Linked DNA regions of Homo sapiens. The protein of the gene in region 2 interacts with the protein of the main gene of each other region in a biochemical or structural test. Each region holds a gene or a part of one and is shown on either strand. Other genes may lie near its edges.

Region 1 (3,633 bases), on a different chromosome or scaffold from region 2:
ACATGGGCACGCATGTGTTAATGGGAAGACATGGAAGCCTTTGGTTGCTAAATTGAGACGAAAGTAAAGAGGAAGTTTGAAAAGTTTGGGGCAAAGAACCCTCTAGAACAGAAAATAGAGATGGTAAATTTATAAGTAATAGGATAACGATCATAAATTAGAAGTGAGTTCACCCAGCTTGACTCTGTGTTTCTAGCCATTTGGGCATCAGGCTCAGGTTGGGCAGAGAGTTGGATTTATCCAGATTTGGTTTATCCAGATCTGGTTTGATTTATCCAGATCTGGTTTATCCAGATGAAGACACTGGGGTAGGGATTGGTCATATGATTAGTGGTAGACTTTATACTTGGATAAAGAGGGGAGAAAAGGGGAAAATGAGGGTTGTTTTTTTTTTTTTAAATTGTTTTGTAGAAATGGAGTTGCACTGTGTTACTCAAGCAGTCTTGAACTCCTGCCCTCAAGTGATCCTCCCCAAGTGCTAGGATTACAGGTGTGAGCCACTGTGCCCAACCTTGGAGTGAGATGAATAGGTGATAGAATCGCTGTATTACAGGTCCTAGATTAAGAATGAGAAAACAATAAGGAATTACCTAAGAAAAATAGGAAGGTACATAATTGGAAAGTTGAGTGGTATAATTGAAAAAACCCAGGTAGAAAACAGCTGGACTGGGAGGTCAGTCTGAAAGCCCAGGTTATTAGAAGCTGTTACACTCGAACCTTAGTAATAACTGCAGTAAGAAAAAGATAGTAAATGGAGCAGAATCCAAAATAAGATGGAAAGCCTAGTTTTTAGAAACTGGGAGAGTTGATTTAGAAGCCACAATAAGGTTAGAACAGTCACCACTGTAGGGTTGCAGAGAAAAGTCAGAACAATTTTGTTGAAGATTCATCATGAGTTCCAAAAGATGTGGGGAAAGAGTTTTAGAATGTACAAAGGTAAATGTGAATTTATTCCCATGATGACTCATGGATACTAAAGGCCTGGGGCTTTCTGGAGTGCTCAGAGTATGGGCAGAGGAAAGGCCAGGAATCCATCATTTCTGAGCACTGGGGGAAAGAAAATCCCAAAATTTAGTATCTTTATCTTGGTGATTAAAAGACTCAAGCCTGTAATCCCAGCACTCTTTGGGAGGCCAAGGAGGGAGGATAGCTTGAGGTCAGGAATTCAAGACCAGCCTTGGAAACATAGCAACACATCGCTACTAAAAATCAGACATTAATGAGACGTGGGGGGCTTGCCTATAGTCCCAGTTACTCAGGAGTCTGAGGTGGGAAGATCACTTGAGCCTGGGAGATTGAGGCCACAGTGAGCTGTCATCATTCCATGGCACTTTAGTCTGGGCAACAAAGCAAGACTCTTCCCCCTACTCAGCATCCCCCCCCCCCCAAAAAAAAAAACCCATCTCTTTACACAAATTGCCTACAGACCACTTGATACAGAATGGGCCAGACATGGTGAGTTAGTTGTGAACCAACTGGTTACACTGGTGGGTGTGTTGAAGAGAGAAGGTTTTATCATTCTTAAGTTTGACACCGTTCATTGCAGGGGCCCTCCTCGCCAAAGACAGCCTAGAGAGGACGGCAATGAAGAAGATAAAGAAAATCAAGGAGATGAGACCCAAGGTCAGCAGCCACCTCAACGTCGGTACCGCCGCAACTTCAATTACCGACGCAGACGCCCAGAAAACCCTAAACCACAAGATGGCAAAGAGACAAAAGCAGCCGATCCACCAGCTGAGAATTCGTCCGCTCCCGAGGCTGAGCAGGGCGGGGCTGAGTAAATGCCGGCTTACCATCTCTACCATCATCCGGGTAAGCAAGCTTGGATGGCCATCCATTTATGGCAGTCGTGAGTGGTGACCATTTCGTTTTATTAATGCAAGAGTAGAAAAACCTCAGTTCCATCAGATAATGAAAGCCATGTTATTTATAATGTGTTCTGCCCTATTCTTAATTACCTAATATTTCATTTTAGGAATATTGAATATCAGAGTCATATTTGGCCACCCTTCAGCTAGTTCTCAATTCTGACACTGGAGACCTGTATTTTCATGAGTATTTTGAACTATTAGTGCTTTCTATCAACTTTTCTGAATGAATTTTATGATTTCACTAGTAAACAGAGGAAAGTTTTGCTAGCTGTATTCTGAGAAATATGTTAATTACATTATTATTTATGCATTATTTCAAAAAGGAAGTGGGGATAGCTGTTAGAATTAACCTAGATGGTGACAAATAGAGTCTGTTTGGAGAAAGTGGCAACATTAATATAATCTTTTAATCATTTCTAATTGTTTTTTTTTTTTGTTGGTTTATGTTGTTCCCGGAAAAAGACGAGAGTGTTTCGTGTCTAAAAAACTCCTAGAATGACACGTGGTTTATCATGGTTTATTTAAACTGCCTGTAGATTAATAATAATAATTCTCTGGCAGACCACATGATACAATTACGTTCTTGTTACTTTAGCTCATTAGCTCACTTGTTTTTATTACCCTTAATTCCAAAATTAAGGGATTCTTTTTCATTTCGCTTTTTACATGATATCGAGAGGTACGTGATTGTTGTTCCCTCCAAAATTAGCATTCAACCAGTGGTGCTTTTGGTTTTTTCCCGTTTACTATTTGCTGGATGGCAAGAGATCTGTTAATGTCTCCCAATACACAAGTAATGTAAACTAGGGCATGTACTACACTAAATGAAGATCACCATGAATTCTACATGATCATCTTTATTTTTTTCTTTACAGTTTAGTCATCCAACAAGAAGAAATATGAAATTCCAGCAATAAGAAATGAACAAAAGATTGGAGCTGAAGACCTAAAGTGCTTGCTTTTTGCCCGTTGACCAGATAAATAGAACTATCTGCATTATCTATGCAGCATGGGGTTTTTATTATTTTTACCTAAAGACGTCTCTTTTTGGTAATAACAAACGTGTTTTTTAAAAAAGCCTGGTTTTTCTCAATACGCCTTTAAAGGTTTTTAAATTGTTTCATATCTGGTCAAGTTGAGATTTTTAAGAACTTCATTTTTAATTTGTAATAAAAGTTTACAACTTGATTTTTTCAAAAAAGTCAACAAACTGCAAGCACCTGTTAATAAAGGTCTTAAATAATTGTCTTTGTGTAAATTTGTCTAGTTTTGCTTTAGTTTGTAAGTATTTAGCTATTTATAGGACCCTTAGCTTGACCCAGTCTACAAATAGATGATGCTCACTGGTAATTCCCTCAGGTAAAATGTCTCAAAATCTCTAATCCTTTAAGTGGCATGCCTGTGGGCCCATACTAAAAATTAGAAAATACATACTCTGATAACCTGGCCATTTTTCATTGAAGGATTTAGCTCATTTGTAAGAAAGACTTGAGTGTAGATTTTGGGTGGGTCCCTTTGGCTGTGAGGCATTGTTTAAAAGGGCATTGCTCTAGCCTAGACCGACCAGACTCTCATCCTGCTCCACTTAGTTTTGTCACCTTGGGAGAATTTGTTTCAGTGTGTCAATTGAAGATGCCAATTGAAGTGTTAGGACAACCTGTCACACTGCCTGGTGTGGTCATCAAATATTGGTTCAGCTCCTTATGTCCTAGAGATGGAAACAAGTAATATAAAACCCATGGGAAAGCTGCTTAGGAACATG
Region 2 (5,552 bases):
AGATTGAGACCATCCTGGCCAATATGGTGAAACCCCGTCTCTACTAAAAATACAAAAATTAGCTGGGCGTGGTGGTGCATCCTGTAATCCCAGCTACTTGGGAGGCTGAGGCAGGAGAATCGCTTCCACCTGGGAGTCAGAGGTGGCAGTGAGCCGAGATCATGCCACTGCACTCCAGCCTGGTGAGAGAGTGAGACTCCATCTCAAAAAAAAAAAGTTTATTAAAATTCCACTGAAATGAGATATCTTGTTTTCTATACTGCACAAGAATTTCCTTATGAATTAAACAACCATCACAATTTTTTATTGTCTTATTATTCTTCTCAGACTCCTGTTAGGACTGTTTAGCACAATTGTGACCCAGTGCTTGAGATTTCAGGCCTGATGACCTTGTTCTCTCTTCTGTGGGTCAGAATTGGGGAACTTCATCTATGGTAGTAAACTTTGTTAAGTTTCTTTTCATTCCAGAGGATCCAAAATTATTTCTTTGATTTAATACACAGGAACAATAGAAAAATGCAAAATGCAGCCACCTTAAGAGTTATTACAGCTAAGAAGAATTAGTTATGGAAACATAAAAGAACATGGTTCTTTAAAAAGATGCTCTTAAAAACATTAAAATCTTTTCCAATGCCATAAAAGAGATAATGACATATAACTTTTTTCCTTTTTTAAATTAATAAAAGCTAAAATAATCCACCATCATTGCATGAAATTCTCTTGGGCTGGTTCTATTCTTCTTAGTCCACTTTCAGTATCATGTTTTAACATCCACATTATACTTTTTTAATAACATTATTTCCTTTCCTCAAAAATGCTAATGAACGGTCATAGCCAAATCAAACGAACACAAATAGTTTAGAGATGTGTTGTCCAGTAGTTTTCTTCTATGGATGGAAGTGTACTATTCTTTGTTGTACAATATAGCAGTCACTAGCCATATGTGACTATTGAGCGCTCGAAATGTGGCTAGTGGAACTAATGGGGTCTTTAATTTTATCTATTTAAAATTTAAATAGCTATCTGTAGCTACTGGCTGCCATATTTGACAGTACAACATTAGAACCCAGAAATAAATAACCGGCCTATAACAGTACTCCGTATTAGCTTTGGGACCCATTAACCAGAAGTTATTTCCCAGAACTTACAATTCCATCTAAGAATTACCATCCCCTAATCTAAGAATAACTACCATCCCCAAATCCCGAAGGTTACACACAAAAGGTGTATTTAAATAAAATGAACACTTGCGGTTGTTATTTAACATGCTATTTTTAAAAATTATTTATTTATTTATTTTTTATTTTATTTTTTCATATTTATTTTTTTAACATGCTATTAAAAGATAATTTTAACAATAATAAGGACAAGAAAATCGAGTGAGAAAGAAATGATGAAAAAATATTGTTTTTTCCTTTTGTCTTACTACCCACATCTAACTGGTGAGTACTCTGGGCTATACTTCCAAAATCCATCCACTTTTTTTCATCTCTCCTGCCTCCATCATAGTTCAAGCTACCATCATCTCTTGCTTAGAGTACAGTAAAAGCTTCCCAACTTGTCCCCCTACTTTCTCTCTTGGTCCCTAAGTCGCTCATAAAATGGCCAGGGTGATTGTCTTAAAATGCAAATGATATCACATTATTCTTGTCCTTAAAATTTTTTTCAGTGACTTCTTCTATCCTTGGAATATATTCCAAACTTCATTAAATAAGCCTACCTAACCCCAATTCTTCCTTCTTCTACTTCTCAGAACTCATCATGGCATCATTTTCATCCTCACTTGCCACAGCCCTGTCACACTTTCTTTTCCACTGCTCGAACAGACCAAAAATTTGTCTGGCTCAAGACCTTAGCGCTTACTGTTTCTTGTGTGTGGAATGCTATTTGCTCAGATCTTCAGATGGGCAACGCTTGTTATTCATGCTGCAGCTCAAATATCCTTCTCAAAAGAGGTTTCCCTGACACTTTACCTAATGTTGCCACCTAGTGACTATTACATCCTTCTGTTTTATTTTCAGATTTTATTTTCACAACCTGAAATAATCCTTCTTTCCTTTGTCTACTTGTTTCTGTCTTCCTTCCTCCTCTAGAATGACTCCGTGAGAACGGGAAGCATGTCTTCCCCGCCTGGCACATAGTACGCTCTCAATAATTGGAGGAAAAAACCCTAGATTTTCTATAACTATCATTTTAGCTCCTAAATAAATTGGTCAAGTTTGGTGAACTCTCCCAAGGCTGCCTCAGAACTAACAAATTAAAATGGAGATATTTAATCACTCCACTCAAAAGCTGCTTAACACCCTCATTTAACACAGTCAAAAAATTTTAACTTTTTTTTCCTTGAGTTTTACACCCTATTCCATCTATCAGTTGCCAATACAGCTGTGGAATAAAAAGTCCTAAAACCTCTCATAACAGCCTTCCAGGAGGTTAGTTTCTTTAGCTTTCCTTCTCAGTAACTTTGAGGCTATCCCTAAGGAGCCTCTTTTTCAGTTTTTAGGTAAGGAGCCTGCTGGGAATGCAGTGTCACAGGAAACTAATTCTTGAACAGGGCAGATTGGTCACAGGCCCAGTATATTTTAATATATTTATTCTGTAAATGGGCTTTTTAAAGTAAATAATAACAAAGTAAACTCTCAGAGATGAAACATTGTTAGACATATTTATTATACTACCACAGGAGAAATATTTCAAGAAAAATAAGGCTAAAAACTGTTGGAGATAATACCTTCAAGGCATTTTCTACCATCTTAGGTAGTAATCTGAAATGTCCAGGGAATTTTTAACCCATTTTAAAATGCATTTTTAGGCAGGGTGCAGGGGATCACACCTGTAATCCCAGCACCTTAGGAGGCAGAAATGGGAGAATCATATGAGGCCAGGTATTAGAGACCAGCCTGGGCAACACAGTGAGATCCTGTCTTTACACAAAATTAAAAAAATATATATATCAGCCAGGCATGGTGGTGCATGCCTGTAGTCCTAGCTACTAGGGAGGCTGGGGTGGGAGGATCATTTGAGCCCAGGAATTTGAGGCTGCAGTGAGCTATGATCATGATTGCTCCATCCTGAGTCACAGAGCAAGACTCTGTCTCAAAATATTTTTAAATGTCTTTATTATTGTTTCTTGGTAGGAAACAATACAAAGGTAAGATTCTCCTTCACTGTGCATGCCAAATCAACAAGACCCAAATCTAAGTATTATTAATAGATCCTTTTTAACTTACAGGATATATAAGCAGACACAGTCATGAAATGGTCAATCTACATACAAGCAGTTAGAGCTGTACCCAGAATCTTAAAAAGAAAATCAATCTTGTACAAAATTTCTCTGGTCTGTTACAATATGCATTCTTTTTTTTTAAATTTTTTTTTGAGACGGAGTCTGGCTCTGTCACCCAGGATGGAGTGCAGTAGCACGATCTCTATTCACTGCAACCTCTGCCTCCTGACTTCAAGCGATTCTACTGCCTCAGCCTCCTGAGTAGCTGGGATTACAGGCATGCACTGCCACACCCGGCTATGTATTTTAAAAGAGATGGGGTTTTGCCATATTGACCAGGCTGGTCTCGAACTCCTGACCTCAAGTGATCCACCCGTCTCGGCCTCCCAGAAAGTGCTGTCATTACAGGTGTGAGCCACCACCCCTGGCCAACGATATGAATTCTCAACAACAACAAAAAAGTACTGCCCCTAACAGCATTCCACCCAAGAAAAGCTTATGTAAAACATTTATACAGCCCATAGAAGCATAAACCAGATGAAGACAATGTGCCTATGGCTACTCTTCAGGTATTTTTAGTGACTGAGTCTATTACCTATTATCATAAATCTTACCATGAGCTCTCGTTTTTCCTAAGGAGTCTGAAATACAGCATTTTAATAGGCAGTACCCAACCTGACAACTGGATTAAATGCTAAAAATGCATTTATATCTATTTGTTGTTTGCACTTCTAGGTACAATTTCTTATAGAACGACTGCAGAGAAATTCAGCCTATGTGACCTAAAATACAGTTGAATGAGTACTTACTGCCCCTCTGTTCTTACTATTAATGAAGAAGACAGGTATCCTAGTGCCCTGTAGAGAAGGAATTTCTGAAACGTGAAGGACTGTGTGTTACCCTCAGAGAGGCACTTATGCACCTTCTTTATCCTTATTAGTTGTTCCTAAAACCTAAGATACAGGTATGGCAACTATAATCACTATGAGAATACATGTATATATATAACCCAGGAACCAAGCAAAACAAAATGCCAATTGTCCTCTCTGAAGATCAGCACCCTTGAAAAGTTCACACAATTCAAGTTTATACTTTTAATTATTTTCCTGAGGGACATGAAAATAACTGGAACAAAACAAAATAACAGTCTGAATTGTATGAACTGTATAAAGGAATTCAGCACAAAGCCTGGAAGCAGAATGCTTATGATCTGGTATGATTCACACCCCCTCTTTTCTACTTATAGAATGGCAGAAATCATAAAGCAAAACCATTGTAAATTTAACTTGGAAATGTAAAGAGCAATGTCAAATGTCCCAAGTCTATAGTTTAAGTGATTATAGAAAGAAATAATAGGCTTTACTAGTCACTGATAAACAATGTGGTTTAAAACATTTTCAGATTTGTTAAAATTTAAAGGAAACTAGTCTTATTTATGGATTTAATATTCATATTAACTTTTCCAATATCACAGAGTATCTCAAAACACTTTCAACAGTAAAGATGAGATTAACTTATTTCCAAAAACCCTTTGATGTATCATTAGTACAAACAACATGCAATTACACTACATTTTGAGACAAACAGAATGAATATGCTACCAAAGCAGCATGACATACAACACCATGCTAATAGTAGATGACAAGCAAACCTTAAAATTAGGGATGACGGGTGTGATGTTTTTGCATAGAAGTGATAGCTGACCCAGAAGGGCAGGCATCGGTGGCCTTATAGAGAAGCAGATTGGGATGCTAATAAAAATTGTAGGGGTAAGGAAGAGAAGGACAGGAGAATTAAGCTACAAAGCAAAGATGTGAAATATCTCCATTTTGCCTGTATGTTATCCACCCATCCAACCAACCAGTTATTAAAATACTTAAAAGGAACTAGACACTTATCAAGTCTTGTTCTTACTTGGGTCAAAGGCACATACAGTGTTTGCATGGTTGCATAAAAGTGCAATTTGATCTCAGTACAGAAAAATCTAATTGGTACTCACTCATTGAATTCACCCTCAACCTTGGTCTCATTAGTAAGTGCTCACTGACTGAAACTTTGCAACTTTTGGGTCAGTTGGTCCTCTAGCCATACATTCAACTCTGAGAAAGTCTCTAACCTAATCTGTTTTTAGCTTCAATGGCCTCTCCTGCCAGATAAAACCAAAGTAAGGAAATAGAATGTCTTGCGAAAAGCTGTGGAAACGCACAGGCAACTGGAATAATGGAGCCATATCCCAGATACAACTTGGAGCTATAACTTATCTCTTGACTTCTAAATTAAGACACAGATTAATGGCGCATACATATATATATATAACCTTATATCT

What was found.
Region 1: of the proteins of FBXO33 (region 2) and YBX1, one has a biochemical effect on the other in vitro, tested with the Homo sapiens proteins (one study listed by BioGRID).

The regions. Positions count from the first base shown.
Region 1 is NC_000001.11:42,699,235-42,702,867, forward strand, and holds part of YBX1 (Y-box-binding protein 1), read left to right. Parts: intron 1-1,546; coding exon 1,547-1,781; 3' UTR 1,782-1,812; intron 1,813-2,746; 3' UTR 2,747-3,633. UniProt on the Homo sapiens protein: DNA- and RNA-binding protein involved in various processes, such as translational repression, RNA stabilization, mRNA splicing, DNA repair and transcription regulation.
Region 2 is NC_000014.9:39,424,846-39,430,397, forward strand, and holds part of FBXO33 (F-box only protein 33), read right to left. Parts: intron 1-5,552. UniProt on the Homo sapiens protein: Substrate recognition component of a SCF (SKP1-CUL1-F-box protein) E3 ubiquitin-protein ligase complex which mediates the ubiquitination and subsequent proteasomal degradation of target proteins. Probably recognizes and binds to phosphorylated target proteins.